Regions from separate parts of the Homo sapiens genome. Here regions 2, 3 and 4 are each linked to region 1. The links come from fine-mapping of genetic effects on gene expression. A gene starts in region 1. Each other region holds a variant in brackets. All regions are shown on one strand. Distances are from middle to middle.

What was found. PIP is the estimated chance that this variant, and not a neighbour inherited with it, causes the effect. A credible set is the group of variants that fine-mapping cannot tell apart.
Region 2: its variant is the best candidate, but not a certain one, in a credible set for the expression of REV3L in neutrophils (BLUEPRINT, PIP 0.74).
Region 3: its variant is the best candidate, but not a certain one, in a credible set for the expression of REV3L in subcutaneous fat (GTEx, PIP 0.54).
Region 4: its variant is the best candidate, but not a certain one, in a credible set for the expression of REV3L in whole blood (INTERVAL, PIP 0.60).

What each region holds. Positions count from the first base shown.
Region 1 is chr6:111,481,754-111,484,436 of GRCh38, reverse strand. It overlaps REV3L (REV3 like, DNA directed polymerase zeta catalytic subunit), which reads left to right and starts at 1,219. Exons shown (of 32, transcript NM_001372078.1): 1 at 1,219-1,687. The coding sequence starts at 1,549. It also overlaps TRAF3IP2-AS1. RefSeq lists enhancers at 73-432, 2,273-2,332 and silencers at 503-892, 933-1,162, 1,333-1,632, 1,693-1,762, 1,823-1,902.
Region 2 is chr6:111,583,928-111,586,610 of GRCh38, reverse strand. The region is part of intron 2 of TRAF3IP2 (TRAF3 interacting protein 2); the gene reads left to right. It also overlaps TRAF3IP2-AS1. Among named protein-coding and RNA genes, the nearest start is that of TRAF3IP2, 21 kb to the left of the region's middle. The variant G/TTG (reference allele first, on the strand shown) is at 1,277.
Region 3 is chr6:111,592,769-111,595,451 of GRCh38, reverse strand. The region is part of intron 1 of TRAF3IP2 (TRAF3 interacting protein 2); the gene reads left to right. It also overlaps TRAF3IP2-AS1. Among named protein-coding and RNA genes, the nearest start is that of TRAF3IP2, 12 kb to the left of the region's middle. The variant G/A (reference allele first, on the strand shown) is at 1,632.
Region 4 is chr6:111,588,931-111,591,613 of GRCh38, reverse strand. TRAF3IP2 (TRAF3 interacting protein 2) reads left to right here. Exons shown (of 9, transcript NM_147686.4): 2 at 1-356. It also overlaps TRAF3IP2-AS1. Among named protein-coding and RNA genes, the nearest start is that of TRAF3IP2, 16 kb to the left of the region's middle. RefSeq lists an enhancer at 1-417. The variant A/G (reference allele first, on the strand shown) is at 1,341.

The sequences.
Region 1 (2,683 bases):
CTCTTTAAAACAAAAATTCCCTAACTGCATCGCTTCACCCCCTCTCGATTTTTGAATAAAGTTGTTTATTCAAAACGGCCCTTCCCCACGGTGGTGCTTTTATGCCTTCGGGTAGTAAAACCTTCCATAACGTGTTAGTGAAAAACACGAGGAGGCCACGTCTAACGCGGTGACTTTCACAGGCCTTTTTCTTTGGCCAAAATTTTCTCGGAAAGACTGTTAATCCTACATTCCGCTGGGGGAGGAGCGACGAGGGAGGAGGGAGGTCACCGGCAGCTGACAAGTCCTTACATGTACTTGCGCGTGCCCGGGACGCAGCCTGCGGGGCCGAGGAAACCAACGAAGGATGTATTAGGACGAGAGGGAAGGAAGGGGGCGGGAGAAAAACACGGTAGTGGGAAATCCCTGTGCACTGGATCTGCCAACCCCTCGCAAAGCTGAGAAGAGCCGTGCGTGAATAAATCTCATTAAATGGCCCGGCGCAGACACTGCAGCAGCAAAGAGGAGGGGGCACCGCGGCTCGCGCGGCACGTTCGGGAAGGGGGAACGCCAGGGCGGCCCTTTTATAGGCCGAAGCCCGCGCCCGCGCGCCCCCACCCTTCGCACCGCCCCCGGGCCACGCGCGGAGCCGCGGCGTTACCTGAGAAGGGCCGGCTGCGTCCGCACCCGGCCCCGCCCGTTCCGCCGCCCGCCCGCCCTTCCCTCCCGCGAGGCCGCAGCGGCACGAGATCTGCGCCTCGCCTCCCTCCTCACGCGGGCGGATTTTCTTACCTTGTGAAAAACCGTCTCAGCGGCTGCCCCCGCCTCCTCTGCTGGATGTGAAATGGCGGTCGGCGAGGCAAGTGTGAGCATCGCAGCTCCTGCCAATCCTGCATAGCCGCCAAAACGGCCCCGAACACTGGCGCCCCCCTCCCGCAAGCCCCTCGGAGCCCATCCATGAGATCGGTGCTCCGCCGCCCCTTCCGCTGCCCCTCACCCAGGTGACCGTGCCCGCCAGCCGAGTCATCGATCCCGCGCGGGCGCTGCCGGCCGCCGGCCGCCTCCCTCGCCGCGTGCCCGGGGAGGGGGAGAAAGCCCCTTCTCGGCCCCCGCCCTCCGTGTCCCGCCCGGGCGCCCGCCCTCTCGCTCCTTTTCCCGCCGAGCCCCCTCCCCCGCACTACTCGCAGCCTCCCTTCGCCACACACACCCCCCTCTCCCCTCCCCCCAGTGGTTGCGTCCGTGACATCATCATCATGGCAACAAGAGCTGCAGCCTGGGACCGAGGAGCCCGTGTGATTCCCGGCGGTGGCGGCAGTGGCGGCAGCACCAGCACCGACGAAAGCTCGAGGGCTTCTCTCCTGCGGCCCCTTGCCGGGTGCTCCTGAGGAGGCGGCGGCAGCAGCGCCTACACCGCCCCGCCCGCCGCTCCTCGAGGTGCCTCTGTGTGAGGGGAGGGGGCCGTGCCGAGAAGGGGAGGGGGCGCCGCCGCCGCTGCGGAGGGAGCCGCCGCCGCTGCTGCTGCCGCTGCCGGGTCGCCAGTGAAGGGAGGCAGTGGCGGCGGCGGCGAACATGTTTTCAGTAAGGATAGTGACTGCAGACTACTACATGGCCAGCCCGCTGCAGGGGCTGGATACCTGCCAATCCCCCCTCACCCAGGCCCCTGTCAAGAAGGTGCCGGTGGTGCGAGTCTTCGGAGCGACCCCGGCAGGTAAGCGGGCGCCGGGCGCGGGGCGGGAGCGGGAGTCGGCGGGGCGCCGGGGCCGCCCTCCCCGCCGCGCACACGCGCACACGCCACCGGCGCCGGCCGTCTCCGTGGATCGCTGCCGCGTCTTCCCTCCCCTCCGCCCTCCTCGCCTTTTCTCTCGTGCGTGACAAGAGCCGCAAAAATGTGGGTCCGCGCGAGCGCTGCGCGGCGCCCCCACCCCCGGGCAGGGAGGTGGCGAGCGCCGCGTGTTTAGACTGCGTGTGGCGGCCGGGAGCGGGAGCCGCACTCCAGGGCGCGGGCCGGGAGAGCGAAAGCCGCGGGCGCCCCGGACGGCGGGCCAGGTGGCCGCGCCATGTCCATCGGTGGACGGGTTCGTAGGGCCTGCTCTGAGGTCGGTCGCTAGTGGGACATCCCTTGTGTCCCCCAAGTGCCGCTTTCTGGAAACGGGGAAGTGTCAGCCTTGTTGTCAGTCGCTCCCCATGGTCTCTTCTCACCCTCGCTCTCCTCTGCCAGTTCCGGAGATGCAGTGGGCCGGAGAGAGTGGCGCTTGGGGCCAGATAATCTTTCTCACTGGGGTGACCGTGTGGCTCTGCTGTGAGTGCAGGTCGTGACTCCTTAGAGTTTAGTGCCTGAGCGTCGGGGGACAGGGCAGCATCCTTAGGTGCAGTGCTTTCAGGAAATGTGCATCCATGGAAGTAGGAAATGCGTGTTTATGTTGCCCAACCTAAAACATCACACTTAATGGGGTGAATTTATTAGGAACCACAGCCAGACTCAGCAGCACAGACATTTTGAAATGCTCCTAGGCTGGGCTGTAGGATTGCGTTTTAAGTACAGGTATATATTTTTTAAACACAACTATGTTGAAGAAGGGATGGGAAGGGGAGACAGCCGTGACAGAAGGTACGTTCTCAAAAACTCCTGGGGCTTATGATAATATAAAAAAGATAGAGGCCCAGTTTACTAGGTGTTTTAAAATGGTTTTGCTTTTTTGCATGC
Region 2 (2,683 bases), 100 kb before region 1:
AATGGCATATCTAAGCTTTTTGCAAGTTAAAGCAAAAATGGTTATTGGTCGCCCCTTTCATGTAAAAAAAAAAAGTTTTCAAAGTAGGTGGAAATAAGAAAGGGAATAAGTCTACGTTTTCTCCTCACCCCACCCCCTGGAGAAGTCGGCCTCCTGCTGCCTCCGAATCCTTCCACTGAAGGTCGCCAGCATGGAGTTCATGGCTGTGCAATCAAATGAAACTCATGATGCAAATATATTGGGAAAAGAGAGAGAATTAAGTCTAGAGAGCCCTCATTTTATTATAAAATTATTGCTTTCTCTACCAAGGAGACTGAATAGAATAAAATTACAGGTACATGTGTACAATTGTACCTGTGGACCAAAAAAAAAAAAGGGGAGGGATTATTTGTATGCTAGAATGCATGCACAAAAAATAAACCAGATGGAAGAAATGATAAAGAAGGAGTTGCCTTTCAGGAACGACAGCTGCTTACAGCTGTGGGAGTTCCTGCAACAGTTTATATTGGCCATTTTGTTTCCTGGCTAAACTGATTGCATTATATCACGATTTTTTTTGACAACTTGAAAATCAGATTTTATTTCTCTCTCATAAACTCTTTTAATTCTTAATAAGGAAGAAAAATGTTGCATGTTGTGACTGATAAATGGAAAACCTCATTTAGGATTTGGTTTACATATTCCAAATGGTAAAAGCTCAGTAACATGAAGATCGTGTGTACTCAGGCCAAGAAGATCACAGGATTGACAAATAACATACAGTCCTGGGCGCCCATTTGTGATTGTGCAAGATTTTCATTTTTGCTTTGTGATTAACACTGCCTCTGAACTGAGGAGTTACCATGCTAGCAAATCATTTGTCTATCACATCATCCACCTTCCCTCTCCTACAGAATTAACTCTCTTGATGGAACTGTAGGCATTGGGGACAAGTCCGCAGGGAAGCTATTTCTGAACAGGGATTCTCAAGTAGGTGGCTGTCGACTCATATGTCTCCCCTTCTCACACACTAACTAGTGTGGGTTTGTGTTTAAAAACAGACACCCACAGACACATAGATTTTCTCTTTCTCTCTCCATTTATTTTGAGCTAATCCCAAGGGAACTGTATCCTATTTATCTTTGTTCACCAAGTGCCTGGCCATCGAGGTTCAATAAATATTTGTTGAATGAATAAAAAGAAATCTGTTCTCTACTTCCTGGGGAAAGGAGTGAGCCTTAATCATGAGTAGAGTCTTTGTAATGTGAAGCCTTGGAAAAGCCATTTTTTTTTTTTT[G/TTG]GCCTGGGAGGGAAGCAAAGAAGGGAGTCAATGAAATTTGGAAACAGAACCTGTCCATCCACTTATCAATTTATTCAGCAAATAGTTATACACCGTCCTTGTTTTCATGGAATTCACAGTCTACTGGAGAGATGGATAAGAAGTAGAAGTCAGAAACAGAATGACAAATTATAAGTGCTATAAGGGAAGTAACTGGTTGTTGGAACAGACATTAATAGACAGGTTGACCAGAGAATCTCTTTAAGTAGACATCTGAGCTGAAACCTAAAGGATGAGAAGGTCAAGGAAGCAAGGAGCTAAGGAAGCAAGGAGCTTGATGTCATTAAGATACCAAAAGCAAGTCAGTGGGGCCTAGCAGAGTGAGCAAGGAGAGAATGGTGTGCTAGAAGATGAAGGCTGGATGGGCCATGGTGAGGAATCTGGATTTTTATTCTGAGTTAAACTTCTTTATGAAAATGGAAAATTGAACTCTATAATTCTCAATATGGAACTTAGAACAGTACTTGACATGTAGCAAGTGATCAATAAATGTTAGCCATTATTTTACATGTATAGTACCCAAGTAAATTGGCAAGCCTTCGTCATAGTAATTGGAAAAAAATGATTAAAACTTTAGCAGTGAAATGATGGTCATTTACTTGATAAACATAGTTTTTATTTAGCAACTTTTCTTGTTTCTTTTTTTTTTTTGGTATTTTTTTGTAGAGATGGGATTTCACCTTGTTGCTCAGGCTGGTCTTAAACTCCTGGGCTCAAGAGATCCACCCACCTAGGCCTCCCAAAGTGCTAGGATTACAGGCGTGTCCAGCCTATTTAGGAACCTTTTCCATACAACCAGTCAAATTCCAGACAAAGCTGGTCAGATTCCACTTACAAAAGGGAACACTCATTTCTTACTGATCCACTGATACTCAGTTTTCCTTTGTTTTCAACAATAAAAGGACAGCATGGAGGACTATATTGTCAGTACCCTAATTTTAAAAATTGATGAGGTGTATCATTTTCATCTGCTCACATAAACTGGCATAACTTTTTACCACAGGTGGCCGTTTCTGAAATGAAAGTTACAGCTAATCAAACACTTAGCCCACATGCCTTGGTGATTTTAATGATATGATTTGTTGCTGTGAGACAAAGACATGTTGTGAGGGAAATAATCTGTTAGAAATCATATGACCTTGATTCAAAGGCTTTTGATTAACAGCACCAACATCCGCTTTCTGGAAAAGAAATAAACCCTATGATTAGAGCTTGGTAGTCCTTTTAAAGCAAATAAAACAATATTAGCCATTCATTAATGGATATAGGAAGAAAAATGGCTTCAAACATTAAAAACTTCTCAAGATACTTTCAGCTTTTTCCTCATAAAGGCTTTTAAGGCCACTGGCAAAGTTTCTCCTCTTTTAC
Region 3 (2,683 bases), 110 kb before region 1:
ACACAGCATTGAGTTGGACACATAGTTGAGTTCTGTAATTATCTGCTGTTTTGAGTATTTGATAGTGACATGTTTGAAACACCAGGGTCCATTTTGTTTTTTAAAGATTATTAATTCCATAGTTTTATTAGAAGTTGTTTCTTGCCATGCCAGGTTTATTTACTAAATACTCAAAAGCCATGTGTTCCTTTTCAGACCAGTTTATTTTATTTTCTTTTGAGACAGAGTTTCGCTCCTGTTGCCCAGGCTGGGGTACAACAGTTGTGATCTCAGCTCACTGCAACCTCCGCCTCCCAGGCTTAATCGATTCTTCAGCCTCAGTCTCCCAAGTAGCCGGGGTTACAGGTGCCTGCCACCATACCCAGCTAATTTTTGTACTTTTAGTAGAGACAGGGTTTCACCATGTTGGCCAGGCTAGTCTTGAACTCCTGACCTCAGGTGATCCACCCACCTTGGCCTTCCAAAGTGTTGGGACTATAGGCATTAGCCACCGCGCCTGGCCAGACCAGTTTTTTAAAAAATTATTTTTATTTTTTGAGACAGGTTCTTGCTCTGTCACTCAGGCTGGAGTGCCATGGCACGATCTCGGCTCACTGCAGGCTGGACACCTCCAGGGCTCAAGTGACCTCTCACCTCAGCCTCCCAAGTAGCTGGGACTACAGGCTCACGCCACCGCACCTGGCTAATTTGTTTAATTTTTTGTAGAGACAGGGTCTCATTATATTGCCAAGGCTGGTCTTGAACTCTTGGGGTCAAGTAATCCTCCTGCCTCAGCCTGCAAAGTGCTGGGGTTACAGGTGTGAGCCACCACGCCCAGCCCCAGAGCAGTTTTAACTGAAGAATTCCCACCAGAGGATGACCTCAGATTTCCAGTTTATGTGAGATGACTGCCCTCATCACTTTTTTTAAAGCCTCCTCCAAGCCCCCAGATGGCTCCTCAGCTAGAAGAGTAGAATTTGCAACTTTTTTTTTCTTTAGGTAGAAAAGCGCTTCTAAGGTACTCACACTGGAAAACCCAGTGAGAATGGAAATAGTTGTACCTGAAGAGTGAGGATTGAAAGCAAATCCCATGGCAATAAAGAGAGGACAGGAATTAGTCCTCCTGCCACTCAGCTCACTTTTTGCATCTCTTTGCCTCCCATTCAGCTGTGTGCCCACAAGTGCATGTAGACGATGACACAACAGTCAGCCAGGCCTTGAAAAAATATTTTCGTTTTCTGACCGGCTGAAGAGCATGTTGTGTGGCACATCCAATTTCATAACTGTGGAAAAATTGCAAGAAAGAAAGGGAAAAAATGGTGAGCATTTTTTTTTTTTTTGGAGATGGAGTCTCGCTCTTGTCGCTGAGGCTGGAATGCAGTGGCGCAATCTCAGCTCACTGCAACCTCCACCTCCCAGGTTCAAGCGATTCTCCTGCCTCAGCCTCCTGAGTAGCTGGGATTACAGGCACATGCCACCACGCCCAGCTAATTTTTGTACTTCTAGTAGAAAGGGGGTTTTGCCATGTTAGCCAGGCTAGTCTCGAATACCTGACCTCAGGTGATCCACCCGCCTCAGCCTCCCAAAGTGCTGGGATTACAGGCCCGAGCCACTGCGCCCGGCCAAACATTTTTTAAATAATAAAAAGTTGC[G/A]ATATTTATTTACAGGTTTTTTGGGTAGGCTCTTGTTCATTTTTATAAGGTCTGATCACTTTAGCTGATGAGGTCTCCTTTTCTGCAGAGCCAATGAGCAGAGGACATACACAGCCTGAAAAGGACAAGGACAGGGAAAGGGAGAGACGGAGGGAGGAGGGAAGGCCAGCCGGAAGTTAGAAGTTGAGTTTTCTGTTGCGTCAGAAAACAGAGCAAGGGTCGTTGTGCAGCAGGTGGGTAAGTTTGATACCAAGTGGGAGAAGACTGTCAAAGAGCATTCATTTGGCAGGGAGTGGAGAGGTATCTTTCTGTAGGCTGTTAAGTATATTTGGTGGAAAACTGCTGGCCCCATCTGTGTGAAAGGGGAGCATTTCAAAATGCATGCTGTCCTGATCCCATTGGATTGGGTACAAGGTGCAAGAGAAAGTGAATTCATGCTCTCCGAAACTTGTTTTAGAACATAATTTATGTAAACTGACTTTAGGCACAGTGAGCCCTCAGTGAATGTGGTTGAAATGCGACATGGATCCAAAGTAGGAATTTTTAAATCCAGACATAATCCCTTTTCTCTCTCTGGTATTTGAAGTATGCTGTGTACTAGCCTTGCATAGAATAACCCTCTGGGATTTCTTCTTTTTCACTTGCTTGCTCTTTTACGACACCTGCTCTGCAGCCTCCTGCAAACCCCCAGTTGCTCCTGTGCAGTCCTCTGGACTGCGTTCTTCCTGCCCCTGCAGTCAAGGCATCATCTCAATCAGTTTAATGATGAGAGGAGACTGGTTTTCTTTCTCATTGTGTTAGGTGAATTAAGAGTTCTTCTTACAGCTAAAAGCAATATTGCCCGGCCCGTTGGATAAATGCTCTGCAGGCTAAGGTCTAGTTTAGCGAGCCTTGCTGGTTCAACTACATCACAAACCAGATGGTCATGGCTACCTTTGTTGCAGGCATAGTGCCCAGAGGGAATTAAGTCCTCCAAATGACCTAAAATTAGGTAGAAAATGTCACTCTGACCTTTTTTCAATGTGTTTTAAACTTGGGCTTGCTTTCTTTGC
Region 4 (2,683 bases), 110 kb before region 1:
ATCAGACCAAAGTTTACCTAATGCCTCAGCAGACTCCTTGGGCGGTAGCCAGGAGATGGTGCAACGGCCCCAGCCTCACAGGAACCGAGCAGGCCTGGATCTGCCAACCATAGACACGGGATATGATTCCCAGCCCCAGGATGTCCTGGGCATCAGGCAGCTGGAAAGGCCCCTGCCCCTCACCTCCGTGTGTTACCCCCAGGACCTCCCCAGACCTCTCAGGTCCAGGGAGTTCCCTCAGTTTGAACCTCAGAGGTATCCAGCATGTGCACAGATGCTGCCTCCCAATCTTTCCCCACATGCTCCATGGAACTATCATTACCATTGTCCTGGAAGTCCCGATCACCAGGTGCCATGTAAGTGATCTTTACCTCCTCTGGGCATTCTGGGCTGGGTGACTGAAGAAACAAGGGCCTCACATCAATGCTTCGTGTCACTAGGCTGGCATGAACAGGTCAGAATGCAGGGAGGGCATTCTGCTTCTCTTAGGGGCTTTCCATGTGTGGCTGGATTTGCAAAGGGCCTGCAGAGAATGCTTTTTCTTAGCCTAAAGCCTGTCCCACTTGGAGTCTCCTTCTCTAGGGACCTTTAAGGACAAAATGGGTTCCTCTGTCTGGGTTAGTTTAACAAACCTGCCTAGAAGCAGAGAGATGACCAAAATGATTTCTAGAAAATGTATTTTTTGTTCTAATCTTTGGGCATATGGGTTCTTCCTTCTCGTCATCTTTCTTCCCCATCTTAGACTTGGCAGAGAAAGGGCTTTTAGTCAAAAACAAAGCAAAACAAAACAAAAAACCAGAAGGTGCCCAGAATGTCATTGAGACTCTGGGATTCGGGCCATTACATGAAAATGAAGTTGTTTCTGTGATTTTGCTGCTTAAATCCTTTTGGACACTTGAGCCATCCACAGCTACCCTACATTCCAGCCACTCTAAGACTGGCAGTCCCCCTACTTGTCGCGATGGTTCACATCTCCATGCGTTTGCCAGGCTCTTCTCTCTCTTGGGGATGTTCTTCCCCTTCTGGTGTGTTTGACCCAGTTTCAATACACCTTTTAAAAAAACTGCTTTATCGAGATCTAATATACATACTGCAAGGTTTACCCTTAACCCATTTTAAATAAAAAATTCAATAAGTTTTAGTATATTTACAGAGTTATGCAACCACCATCATACACATTTTTTGAGACTTAGCTCAAGTGTCCCTCTGGAAACCTCCCCAGATCACGTTCTCCTTCAGGGCCTCTGTCTCCCTCCTGCTCTGGCCCTGTTGGGACACCTAACACCAGCATGGCATCTAATTATGTACGTGTCTCCTCTCCTTCTAGACTGCAAGTTTTT[A/G]TGCATCTGCAAATGCAAACGTGTACTTTCAATTCATAATTCCCCAGGATTTAAGCACAGTGTCTGGCACATACTAGACTCTCAATAAACTACTTCCGAAATAATAATATGTATCAGTGCAGGAAGCATCTCTGAAAGTGATAAGTCTTAGGTTGAGATAAAAGGTTCTATCACCATTTTTTTTTTCCTACTACCATTCTTGATGTTAAATCTCCGCTGAGGCCACTGGAAAATAACAAAAGGGCTTTACAGATGAAACACAGGGCTGTGAGGCCTGATATTTTTCTTAGCAAATAAACACTGGACAGAAAGTAGTTCAGAGTGTAAGAAGTGCCTGACCAAAGGCCTGATGCGCAGCTTTAAAATAAATTATAGAAATAATTACAAATGCTGTAATCAACCATAATTTACATATTAGTACATGTATACTAAGTATAAAGCTTCCTAAAGTGAAGAGAGCAACACAGTAATTCATAACTCAAAAAAGAAAAAAACAAAGAGGAGATAGAGAAATGTAACTTAGAAGATGCTTGGAAGAAATAGGTAAGAATGAGTGTGAGATCAGGAATGAGGGCAGGGGCTGGGGAAGCAGGAGGGTGTAAGGAGAATGGGGCCTTGGGCTGGAGCGGGAGAAAGAGCCTCTGATGCCTAAAACTGGGACGTGGTGTATAAATGCTGGGAAGTCAACAGAGTGGGAGTGCATGGATGCCACCCCTGCTCTAAGCGCCCAGTCATAGGGTGGGTGTGGTGGTGGATTCCCTTAAGTATGAATCACTGAGAACTGAATGTTGGCAAGGTCAAGGCTGTATTTCTCAGTGATTGCCAGGTTTAAAAGGAGTAATTTGTGAGAATAATACCATAAACTACTTTTTAACATTCTGTTATCTGTATTTAAAGGTAAGTTTTCACCAGGCACGGTGGCTCACCCCACTTTGTAATCCCAGCACTTTGGGAGGCCAAGGTGGGTGGATCACTTGAGATCAGAAGTTTGAGACTAGCCTGGCCAACATGGTGAAACACTGTCTCTGCTAAAAATACAAAAAGAATTAGCCAGTTGTTGTGGCGGGCGCCTGTAATCCCAGCTACTCGGGAGACTGAGGCACAAGAATTGCCTGAACCTGGGAGGCAGAGGTTACAGTGAGCCGAGACTGCACCTGGGCGATGACACAGTGAGACTCCATCTCAAAAAAAAAAAAAAAAAAGATAATTTTTCTGATCATTATAATATTTGGTCACTCCCAAAATTAAAATATGCCCAGAAGTTCAAAAAAGAAAAGAAAAAGTTTTCATATTTCTGCCACCCAAATAGAATTCCTTATTAGGGTTTTGACATATCAATTTTC